3 separate regions of the Homo sapiens genome follow, and regions 1 and 3 are each linked to region 2. Evidence: fine-mapped expression QTL. A gene starts in region 2. Each other region holds a variant in brackets. All regions are shown on one strand. Distances are between the middles of the regions.

The links. PIP is the estimated chance that this variant, and not a neighbour inherited with it, causes the effect. A credible set is the group of variants that fine-mapping cannot tell apart.
Region 1: its variant is the best candidate, but not a certain one, in a credible set for the expression of SEL1L in whole blood (TOPMed, PIP 0.70).
Region 3: its variant is the best candidate, but not a certain one, in a credible set for the expression of SEL1L in whole blood (INTERVAL, PIP 0.57).

Annotation. Positions count from the first base shown.
Region 1 is chr14:81,472,936-81,477,235 of GRCh38, forward strand. SEL1L (SEL1L adaptor subunit of SYVN1 ubiquitin ligase) reads right to left here. Exons shown (of 21, transcript NM_005065.6): 21 at 1-4,246. The coding sequence ends at 4,037. Among named protein-coding and RNA genes, the nearest start is that of LINC02308, 25 kb to the left of the region's middle. The variant G/C (reference allele first, on the strand shown) is at 2,048.
Region 2 is chr14:81,531,476-81,535,775 of GRCh38, forward strand. SEL1L (SEL1L adaptor subunit of SYVN1 ubiquitin ligase) reads right to left here and starts at 2,378. Exons shown (of 21, transcript NM_005065.6): 1 at 2,200-2,378. The coding sequence starts at 2,269. RefSeq lists an enhancer at 2,166-2,665 and a silencer at 2,382-2,501.
Region 3 is chr14:81,485,149-81,489,148 of GRCh38, forward strand. SEL1L (SEL1L adaptor subunit of SYVN1 ubiquitin ligase) reads right to left here. Exons shown (of 21, transcript NM_005065.6): 15 at 2,707-2,794; 16 at 2,242-2,390; 17 at 1,141-1,306; 18 at 524-598. Among named protein-coding and RNA genes, the nearest start is that of LINC02308, 37 kb to the left of the region's middle. The variant A/G (reference allele first, on the strand shown) is at 1,750.

The DNA of each region.
Region 1 (4,300 bases), 59 kb before region 2:
CTTTATTTCACAAGTTTCAAGATACAGTACAAAACGATTCTGTACATCTCTCTATTAACAGGATTTGTTTACACAATTATATTACACTTCACCAACCTTTATACTGCATTTCATTAAATACAAAATACATTTACAAAAAGAGTCTACCATGGTGTTCCTTCACAATGCCAGCTTAAGGTCTTTTAAAACTTCCTCTTCTACATATTTATAGTGGTTACATCTTGATTATATCAACATTATGAGTTTTATGAGTTTATTTTCTAATCAAAGAGAATAGTGTCAGCCTGTTTCTCAAACCAAATAGGAAAAACAGCATGTGAGATGATTCCCTGCACATAACCAAGGAATCCTTTTCATGCACACAACATTGGACTTTTACTTGTGCAGTCACTTTAACATACAAATCATCTTTCCTTGGGATCGTTTTAAATTTTCTTGAAATACCAAGTGGGTGGAGAGCTTCTTTTCAATGAATACCACACATTTAAAATCCAGATCGTGCCTCAGGCATTCAGGAGTGTTATATTTTAATTTATATTTGAGAGTGATGACTGATGAAAAATATTTGCATGAAAATAGAAATTTTCTTTTGTTCTGATCATTTCTTACATACTTCTAGTCATAATAATGTGTAATACATATATATATTATGAGATTCACTTTCAAAACAAATATCAGCTGTCACTGAAATATAGCCCTGCTTGTCTTGGCAGGTAAAGGGGCTGTTTTCATGACACATCTTGTTTTGAAATGTGCATGTGAAATGTTAGTCCGAACCTCTGTAAAGGAAGTTTTTGCGTATGTAGTTAGACATTAATACACATGCTATACACATAAAGAATTGTGTTTTTCATTTATAGGCCTGCATGCATACTTCCAAAACACTGGTTTGAAGAATGAACATGAGGATAAAAGAAGGGAGAGAAAGACAAAGCAAAATAAAAAAAAATTCCTATATATATATTAATAAAATACTTAAGTTTCCTGGAGGCATCAACGGCTCTTTAAATAAATCATCAGATCATCACCAGATCACTGGCAGGGGTTTCCAAAACTTCCCAACAGTACAGAGACAGAATGGCTTAGTGGTAAGACTCTCACATGTAAGGTAAAAATTAACCTAATATGCAAAAAAGTAACAAATCCTTAGTATCAAGATTAATAATTTATAAATTCATCTGAGTTAAGTGCTAAACAATACATTTTGAAAAGAAGTCATCTTTGATTTACTTTTTCTTTGCCATTGACTGCTAATCAAAAATAAGCCTTACCTAGAAAACAGAAACTGAAACTTCAAACACAGAGACAGAAAAAAAAAAAAAAACCCACCAATGCTACCTCTGTAAAATAAAACTAGAAGCAAAATGAATAGTTTCAAGACAGTCGGCTAACCAACAAACCAAATGCACAAGAGAATACTAAACAGGGTTTTACTGTCATCAAGTTCGAAGGCAGGAAGACAGACTAGAAAAGGTCTTAGGAGAGATGGGCTACCATGGACAAATGAAGCCACACTCTATCTGTTAAATCTAAATTCTAACATTAAAACTCCTGAATCCTGGAGTTAGTTTAATGTCACTGACATTAACTAGCTTTAGTTATTGTCATTTTATTCAAATGGATGCCATTTGATTAGGTAAGTATTGAGCATTATTTTAGGAGAAAAACCAAACCCAACTCCTATTTGCTTAGGTACCATGTCCCATGAACAAAAAAGAAGAAGAGAGCAAAGTATTTTTGAGACAGTCTTTAAGTGAAGCCATAAGAACTAAGTTATTTGAAAGACACCATTCACAAACTGCTGGCAGCAAGTGACCCAGGGTAAAATGAAGTAGAAACAAGCCAAGAAAAGGAAATTCAGAACATTAACAATAGAAAAAGGCAAGTGGTAAACTAATAAGAAGTGTGTTTTTATATGAACAACAAGACTGCACTTTCCCATCCAGCCTTAGGTGGCACACACTGTTTTAAGAAATGTTTTCTCAAAGCACGTACTCAATGGAGGGAAGGAAAGTTAGATATAAAAATCTTGCTAAAGGAAAAATGA[G/C]GGTGGATGGCAGAAGAAAAAAGTGAAAGTTGGTAGTCATCTTGGGTGGTTTTTCAACTTTTAAATAAATTATAACAGTTCCTTCTAAAGGAAGTGTGGCTGCTACCGTGGATTACACTTATTTTGAAGCGGGGAGAAGGGACAGTGGTGGAGACACCAAAGTACTGTACCAACTGCACTCAAATCTCTACATGTAAGAGACCAAACAAGTCTCACTATTTACAAGAGTTGCCTAAAGCAACATTACACTTAGGGGGGGTAAGTTTCCTACCTTTCACAGATACGCTTTCATACATATGGCTCTCTTGGTGACTAACTCTTCGAATTTGGAAGCAATTATCTGGGAGGAAAGTTTTGCTTACCAGGTTTCCCATAATTCTCTAAACACAAAAAGGTATACAACTTCATATATAAAAGCCTTCATGTTCATTATAGACTAGTTAAATCTAGTTCTAACTACTACCCCAACTTCAAAAATCAAAGCAGTACAACTCTACAAGCAATAAACTTTTCAAGTTTTCTGGCAGATGAGGGATTCTGGGAAAAAAGCATGAAGGTTAGTATAAACATACTGACATCAGTAGGCATAGAAAACCTGCTCAGATACGAATGCAGTCTCAGACAAGATACAGGCTGGTGAACACCACCATCTGACAATAAAATGAAATACAAATTCAGTTTAAGCTTTAATTATTTCACGTGTGTAATTATGTGAAACTCTTCAGTTTTTTTCCCATACTATTTAACCAGACAATCCTGAAGCATAGTAGCCTTGATTTTCCTAATGTTAACAGTGAGAAAATGGTGACTATGATAGCTAAGCAGTGGCTGGCTTTCTATTATAATATAAAACTATCAGAAATAAAAAGATACCTGAATAGTATAGAACAGTACAAACAGGTTTTGGCTTTCATCAACCACTGAGTTTAATCCATCTTTGATTCTCTGAGTTTTAGTATTATAATAGTAGTCACTGTAAGCCATACCCTGGCAATGATATTTCATATTTAAAGAATTCAGGAAGGTGATGTGTTCTTTGTGCAAAAAGAAATGCAAAGTAAAATAAATCCTGGGAACAAATGCTTCAACTTTAGGAAAAGTATGTCTGTGTCTGTGATCGTAGTACCCCAACCAGAGTTCGTTTTGTTTTCTAATTTCTCCCACTTAGTCCATCCTCTGGCTTCTGGATCAAGGCTCTGTATATTCAAAACAAACAAGCAAATTACAGAGTAGGTGGGGCAAACTCGCGTTAGTGCAAGGAGTCAGTTCACAAGGTTTTGCATAAGTATATTCCATTCCAAAGAAGTAAAGCTCACAAAAAACTCCTTAACAAGGCCTTTCATTCTTTGAAGGAGAGGAGTATGGTATACCGTGTGACAATCACCAATAAGAAACCTCCCAACCCTCCCTTTTAAAATAACAAATATGCTGAATATGTCTAATTGCATGTGGACTGGTAAGAGTTTCTCAGTTATCGCAGTTCCAAAACATTTTCAAGATAGCTTTTTTTTTTTTTAACTTAAAAGGCAAGTTCTATTTTCAGACTTTCGAACACGTTTAAACTTGCAACTGGGTTTTCCTTTTTACACTGATCAGTTTTTAGTGTCGATGCACAATACCTTAAAGATGGTTGACATTAAGAACTTATGCACACTGAAATAATGACCAAAAGGATCCAAGAAAGATAGCTGGATACAGTAGACATTACTCTGAGTGTCTCACATATGTTTCCAGAAAAGAAAAAAAAAAGCCACTGAAAGTTGTTATTCCATATGGCACTGAAACAAACATTCAGCTCAGTTTAGGTAAGAGTTACTTATCCCTGAAAATAAAGGCATCAGATTCTAAGCAGCTTTAGGAATTCAATGCTTCCTTGTGCCGTGCCTCTTCTGGGAGGTGACCACTGATCCAAGGTCCTAAATCAAATGCAAGTGTTCCCAGCAGATAACTTCCTTCGCTGTCACTGATCAAGGCTGGACCCAGTGCCTATTACTGTGGTGGCTGCTGCTCTGGTGGCCCCTCCTGCTGGGGTGGAGCTGGCCGTGGCCCTGGAGGCCTGGGTGCAGGCATGTCTTGGTGCTGCCTTTGCCTGTAAGCTATGACTGTTCCCAACAGCAGCGCAATGATGGTCATGAGGTAAAGGTCCCACTCAGGTCCCAAAAGCTGGTCCATATCAAGTTGGGTGAACATATCTCGAATCTTAATGAAAATAATATAGAAACCATTATTATCACTAAAATGTCAGGCAAGGAA
Region 2 (4,300 bases):
GGCCGAAACCCTGTGAATGAAAATCACAATTGAAAATCCATAGCTTAATTTACACAACTTTATTTAACACAGGGTTGTTTTTTTTTCTTTTTTTTTGAGACAGGGTCTCGCTCTATTGTCCAGGCTGGAGTGCAGTGGCATAATCACAGCTCAGTGCAGCCTCAACCTCCTGGGGCTCACTCCATCCTGCCACCTCAGCCTCCCGAGTAGCTGGAACTACACGTGTGCACCATCACACCTGGAGTTACGTAGAGATGGGGTTTCGCCATGTTGCCCAGGTTGGTCTTGAACTCCTGGGCTCAAGTGATCCTTCCACTTCAGCCTCCCAAAGTGCTGGGATTACAGGTATGAGCTGGGCCCGCACAGGTGTTTTATGATATATGAACTTCATGTGAGCACAGCACTGCCTTTATTACCTTTTAGCATGCACATCTACATTGTTTTAGTTCTGGCTAAGGCTTCTGCCTTTACCATTGAAATGTTGTGGCACAGCTTTAACTATGATGGAAATCAGAGCAGACATTTCTTGAATACAGTCCTCTACCTACATCAATACAACCCAAGGATTTAATATATCAGTGTTAAGTCTTTTATTACAACATCCTGAAAGCCCCAACTGTTGATCTTCAAATATCTTTTCCACTGGCATGGAGCTCTAAGTATATAAAATGCAGTCAAAGACAGACAGCACAATTCCTATGCTTTAATTTTCTTTAAACTCTGCCAATTAAATTCAGAGGGATACACACCGTGCTCTTTCATTACTGTAGTTCTCTTTAGTGTGAAGAATCCCTCATGGAGATTGTTAATCTATGTATACCTGAGCTGTTCCAGACCTAAAACCCAATGTTTAACAAACCCATAAGAGGAATTCTGATGCAGGAGGTCCATGGTCCAGCAGGTACTCTACTCATTAAGCTCAACAGCTTCATTTCATGCTTTTTGATCAAATATTAAATAACTGCTAAAAGTGCTTCGAGAGTTAAGTATAGTCTAAAGATCTGGTCATTAACTCAAACCATCACTACTACTGGAGGGAGGGGAGTGGACCTGAAAGAATGATGTTGGCAGTAAAGTAATTAGCATAGGGTTGGTGCTTTTGAAATGGTATCTCAAACCACATCATGGATAGAATTTAGGTTTAAGCCTCTTATTTTAGAAGCAGAATGACGTTATGGCATTGATTTACAACTAGGACAGGTAATTTGGGGATTCAGATAACCATCTGGGAAATTTTCTGTTAAAAAAAAGCTGACATTTATTAAAAAAAGAAAAAGCTGACATTTATACTCCGTGTTGTCCCCCCAAAACGTCAAGCCACAGAACACCTGTCCTGTTAACTGAAACTGATTAAAATTCCAAAGTTTTACTGTACTAATTTTTATTTATCAACACTTAGAAACACGAAGTTTTCATGAACACTCTCAAAATGGAAATTTTCAAATGTAGGCAGATTAAAACATTAAAAAAGGGGGAAAAAAGCAGAACCAGAATAAACATTAGCTAACTGGAAAATCAATTCAAAAGCACACAAATTTCTGTATCTATATAAAACGCATCTTATAAGAACCAAGATTTTCCCAAACATCATAAAATGACTGTCAACAAACATGGGGCAACTCAGAAACACTGTGACAGGTCACCGCTTTCTCAGGAAGGTTTCAAAAAAGTAAAAAGTGGCTACGATGAGATCAAAAGTCTTCGTTTTTAAACAGACAGACCAGGGACCATCTCAGGTGTTAAGCAAACTACTGTCAACATCCTGGTCTGGATGGATCCTCCTCTGCCCCAAAGTGACAGCTCCAGGTTTGTCAATTATTTAACTTACAATTCCCAAGCCCAGAGTTCTAGACCAGACCCTTCCTCTACCCCAGGGTCGAGGAAGCTCCACTCGGGCTCCTGTATCAGGATTCATTCCTTTGGAGTCAATTCCGCGTTCGTGAGAAGAGTCGCGCAAAGTTTGTTACGTGGGAGAGAGGTGTGGGCAGGGTGACCGCCCCTTCTTTTTCCACCCCACTCCACCTTCCTAAATAGCCCCTTTGGCGCAGGCCAAGCAAAGCCAAAGAGCGAGTGACAGCCCAGTGCGAGATGTGCCCAGGGAGAACGGGGTCCCGAGCCTGGAGTCCCCACGGCCCCGCCGGCTGTAGAGGCTGGGGGGCGGAGGCTCTGGGCCTTCAGCCCGAGGGGGCGGATACTGACCCGAGGACGCCGAGGCCAAGCTCAGCAGCACCGCACACAGCAGCAGCGTCAGCCCTATCCGGACCCGCATCCTCCTCTCGGGGCCGGTGCCAACCCCTAGAGCTGTCGCCTTCGCCTCTGCCACCACGGACTCAGCCACCACCGCCGCCTCGCCGCTGCTCTTCCTGCTCTAGTCTCCTTCCTCCGCCCCTTCCCAGGCTTCCCTGACCCAGCGCGCAGCCAATCCCCGCCCGCCGTCGCGGGCTTCTGGTCCAATCACCATGGTCTCCCCGCCCACCCCCATTGCTCCGCCCCGGGGGTCATTCATTGGCCAATCATTGTACGAAGCTCCCACACCAGCTTTCTCGGTTGGACCACGACTCACGGACATGGCCCCAGCTAATTGGTAGCCCCTGGGTTCAACCGGAATCAGCGCGTGAGTCCAAGACTGGGAGAAAGAGGCTCATCCGAGACTACAATTCCCAGAATGCGCTTCATGTGATTAACTCGGGGGGTGCTCTTGGGAAACGTAGTCCATCGTAGGGCAAGATTTACAAGTGCGGGTGACTGTTGAAGTTAGAATTTAACTAACACCTGGGCTAAATATTAACTCAAGGCTATGGATTCACAAGCCTTTTTAAATTGACCCAAAATAAATATTAAGGAATAATTTTAAGAACTTGTAATGTGTTTAGCATCTTTTCCTGTTTTATTTAAAAAATTTAAATTGGGCATAGTGATAAGAGCACTGAGAAAAATGCCACAGCTAGTTGAATTTGAGGTGTTTTTTAAAACTTAGATAAAACAGTACCGTGAAGTACGGAAACCAGGGTGCAACTCAGTACCTGTCCTCCTTTCTCCGACAAAACAAAAGGAAATAAATCCGCTCGGCACAGATTATCTCAATACAGTATTTATTTTCACTAGGTTCACCAGACAATAATCATAAAGAAAATGTGCCAACAGCTTTGAAAAATTATTTTAAACACTTGTCCTCATCCTTCTCCTCTTGTGAGTTGCATTGTTCTCTTCTTTCCTAACTAAAGTCAGGAGACCAGGTTCACGTGTGTGGAGGTAGAGGTGATAGTGATTGCATCGCAGGCACGGAAATACTCTATGTAATAAGCACGAAATCCAGGCATGTTCCAACTGAGTAGCAGAGCAGTGACTTGGTGTGCCTGCCCTTTCTTTTCTCAAACCGTGTCATTCTGCTTTCCCTGTCATCCACCCACAGTCAGCTCTAAGGCCTAGAACCTAGTCCAGCCAAGTGAAGGACTTTGGAAAAGTCTCTGCTGGCCATGTGTCTTAACACTTCTGGGCATTTGTCTTCCTTCCTTTTTTTTTTTGTTTTTTGTTTTTTGTTTTTTGAGATACAGCCTTTTATTTTCAGGAAGATGGTAAAAAACCAACCACTGTTTCTCATTCACATCGGAGGAGATGAAGGAAAGAATTATCTCCTCCAAAAACTTGTCTTTTCAGCTACATCACCATTTCTGTCACTAACAATGTTCCCTCTGAGTTCCTCTGATTATAAATCATAGAGTAAAATCTGGTATATTTTCCTTTCTTTTTCATCTTATTGATAATCAAGTTCTATCAGTTTAAACTATGTAACTTTTAAATTGTTTTATTTTATTATGTACCTCTGTTCTCTTCCTCACTGAAAACTCCCCTAATGGCTTTCATTTTCTCTCACCTGGATGATGCACCTGAGTTCCAGCCATACTCACTGACATCATTCTCCCTTTAACCTGAATCACATATCATGGCCATATTAATTTTCCTTAAACACTGCTTTCATATGCCTATTGAAAATTTTCAATGGCTACACTTTTCACAGAATAAAAAAAATTAGAACTTATTCTACTCACAAAATAGGAACTGTGCTGACAGTTCTACTCTGTTGGGGAAGTACCAGGGAAGAAACTTCTGCCTTCTACAGAAGAGCCAGTGATTATCTGTTTGATTAAAACTGGGGAAAGTTTGCTGCTTAGTTAAGCCCCAACTTCTTTTTTCAGTTTTGTCTTTACTGAGTACGTCTTATATTTAAGGGTTGTTCTGGGTGCTGCTGCATGGACCAAATAGCCACTTCCGTTTTACTTTCCAGATTTCACATTAACAC
Region 3 (4,000 bases), 46 kb before region 2:
AGCTTGATGGAAATGTGTAGTACAAAGACTTTACAACCCAATTTAGAAACTCTGGCTCTAGAAACTTCTGTTAAGAATAAATACCAATAATATGCAAACAAATTAAGTCACAGTATCTCTGCTTAATTAATTATTTTATTGTTTTGAGAAGGAGTCTCGCTCTGTCGCCCAGGCTGGAGTGCAGTGGCATAATCTTGGCTCACTGTAACCTCTGCCTCCCAGGTTCAAGCGATTCTCCTGCCTCAGCCTCCTGAGTAGCTGGGATTACAGGAGCCTGCCACCATGCCCAGCTAATTTTTTTTGTTTTTTTTTTTTTTAGTAGAGACAGGGTTTTACTATGCTGGCCAGGCTGGTTTCGGTTTCGAACTCCTGACCTCAAGTGATCCTCCTGCCTTGGCTTCCGAAAGTGCTAGGGTTACAGGCGTGAGCCACAGTACTCGGCTTCATGATTTAATGTTCATGGGAGATAAACAACATAGGGAGGTCCCTGGGTGAAACTCTTATCTTAGAATTAATCACTTACCTTGAGAGGCGGCCCTGTTCCAATGTAGCAAAGCTCTGGGATAAGTTTCATTCTCACCTACAATGCTTGCTTCTCCTACAGGAAAAGAAATGAAATACAAATCAGGCATTTAAGAAAAGGCACTAGACTTAATTTTCATTTGCAAAGTAGGAAGGATAGGTGAAGCATAAGTTAAACAAGAATTAGGATATAAAAATTAAAACAAATACTGAAATTAATTACTGAACTAAAATAGTGAGTTCAAAGCAATCACTGGATGCAAGAGGGCACTACTTTGTGAAACATGTTGTATCTATAGAACCAGTCATGAGACTACTGAGTCACTCTTCTACAGTGTTGGGAAAATGGCATTTTTGTATCCACTGTATTTTGAAAAATACATTTATGCAAAGTGCTTAATTTTAAAATGAATGTCAAATCCATTTCTACAGTCAACTCGTTATAAAACTAACTTTGATGGCTAAAGTAAAATATTAATAACTTAAGCCTGTGTGTTCAGTTCCAGTTACAATAATAAAGAATGTTTCCTAGTAGCTTTTCTTTTTGAATACATTAAACAGTTTACTGGTGTGAACTCGTACATTCTAAACCTAAGGCAGGACTAAAATGAACCTTACTCTGATCAAGAATAAAGGCTGCATTGCTTTGTGCCACTTCATAGCCCTGTTCAGCCAGGAGGAGGTACTGGATCACTGCAGCATTGTAATCGCCATCTTTATAGCTGTTATAGGCAGTCATAAGCCTTTCAGACCAACGGCCTCGTTCACATACATTCTTAAACAACTGTGTGAGGTGGGGAAAAAAAATATCAGTAGAAGAAAATAAGAAAGATATACCAGAAAATCACTTATGCACTTTGGTTACACATGACTATTAAGCTTGCTCCTTCAATTTCTGGCAGCTTTCTTGAACAGACATAAAAGTTTGAGATACTTATTTAAAGTTTTCACTTACTCTTTAGAAGTCAACAGGTTTATAAAAAAAAAAAACAGTACACAATTATTGTACTACAAAAATGACCATTTACTCTGCCCGGGCACTGTTGTAATGATTTATGTATATTACCATTCTTAATCTTCCCATGAGATTCATGAGGAACCACCCTAGGAGGTAAGTCCTGTTAAAAGCCCCATTTGACAAGTGAGTAAACTAAAGCACAGAGATTTAGAAACTTTGCTAAGCATTTATCAATGTCACTCTAAAGTGCCAAGTCTAAGAGAGAGCTA[A/G]GAGACAATTTCCAATTAGGAGATATTAGCATTCCTTTTTGGAACATTCATTCAACTTCTTTTTCTTTCTTTCTTTTTTTTTTTTTTTTAAGAGATAGGTTCTTTCTATGTTGTCCAGGTTGGTCTCAAACTCCTGGGCTCAAGCCTTCATCCACCTCAACCTCCTAAGTAGCTGGGACTATAGGCACGTGCCATTGTGCTCAGCTTATATATTTTTTTGATGCTGATTATTATCAGATACTGTCTTAGGTGCTAGAGATACTGCAGACACCAGTATCTCCCCTTATACAGTTGATTGTAATAGGGAGACACTGAATAAATAAGTATGGTAATTACACACAGACCCCTCGGTCTTCCCTCAGTATATCAAAGCTAGGTAGGCTGAGTCTAGAACTACAGAAGAAAACATACAAAAAAACCAGAATTGAAAGCGCAGACTTTCCTGCTGGGCAAATCAACTCCCTACACACAAGCTGGTAGGAAAGACCTTACCTCCACTGCAGTGTGACATGATCGCATCACGCCGGTGCCACTGGCATGCATCTGAGCTAGGTTATAGAAAGCCAAGATATGGCCTCCCTGAGAAGCTAAATTAAAATACTTCAAGGCCTGTTTATAATCTCTCTTGACTCCAATGCCATCTGTAAGAAAAAAAAAAATCACACGAGATAATAGACTTAAGATTTAGCTAAGTATCAGAGAAGGCTTATATATGAAGAATAAAACTCTAATGAAAGAATTCTTACTGAGTAAATATGTGAATCTAATACAAGCTAACACACTGATACAGATTAATATAATTTACAATGAAAAACAAGATGTACAAATCATTGAACTGGGAGAACATTTAACCAGCCAGAATTTGATAGCACCCATTTCCACATCATAATGCCATCTAGTAGAAAACAGCTTAATTTAGATCTTGGTGTATCCATCATTAATTCCAGTGTTACTTACTATAGTACATGGAACCAAGCTGTAGCTGCCCATCCACCCAGCCTTGTTCAGCAGCTTTCTGGAAATACTTAAGGGCTAGATCATAATTCTGTAGAAAAAGATGTCATATGATGAGAAAGCTCAAAAGGCAGACATACTCAAAAGTTAAGAGATTTATTTAAAAAAATGAACAAAGCATATAAAAAAATATTCCCAAAGAGCCATTAAAAAGACCACTTTCTAATTCTTATAATAGATAATAATATACATTAAGTCATAGGGGGATTAATATTTAAGGTGGTGAAGAAAAGTAAATAGAGTTTTTGTGAAACAATTTGTATGCTGCTCTCAGAAAGCATAAAAACTAGTAGAACATCAGACCAGGAATTAAGAAACAGTCAATCTTCTCTGCTAACCAATCAACCCTTTTTAAACCTCAATTTTCCTAAAATTAAAGAAAGAAAATTATCTCCTTATTCATTTATTCCGTGTACCTTACCAAACACTATGACTATTATACTTCAAAGGTCATATGTATCCAAGAAGAAAAGTTAAAATAAAGGTTACTACTGAATTTTAGTGTCCTAGAATGACTAGAAGGCCGCAAAATGAGAACACATTACTGTCTTTTGTGTTAGAGAATACCTATAGATATTAAAAACCTAGCTCTTAAACCTAGCTCTTAGTTTCAGCCTCAAATTAAAAGCACATATTACTTGGAAAGATCAAATAGAGAAGGAAACTGCAACGTGAATCCAGGGACATCCAACATGAGGAGGCTGCACAGAAGGATGAGATGCAATGGCCAAGGAAACCCAGACACAGACAGAACACCAGGGAAGCGAGAGGTCAAGTGAGGTAGAACCAAAAAATGTCAATTGGACCGACATTTAGGAGGTTACTGGTGATCTGTACAGAGAGTATAGTTCCATGAAGCAGAAGTTCGATTGCTAAGAACTCAAGAGTGAATGACAGCAGCTTAGTTTGACTCTGAGTGAAGGGCTGGGAGAAGACAGGTGGTAGCTAGAAGGGGTAAAGGGCAGAACAGAAAGCTTTCCTCCTCCTCAATGGAAGGCAGTTATGCATTTTGTCAGGATTGAGTAAAAAAGCAGGCAAGGAGATGTTTAAGTCCTGAGAGATGGTTAGAGGACGTGGGGTAGAGAGCAGAGATGGAAGAACAAGAAACAACTCCATACCTCTGGGAGAAAGTGCCAGACACAGAGCTGTTCTAAGACAGTTGAGATGGTGTCTGTCGGGTATGGGGTGGTAGTGAGACAAACTCAGACAACAGAAAGAGGTTCAGCTTTGCTTACAA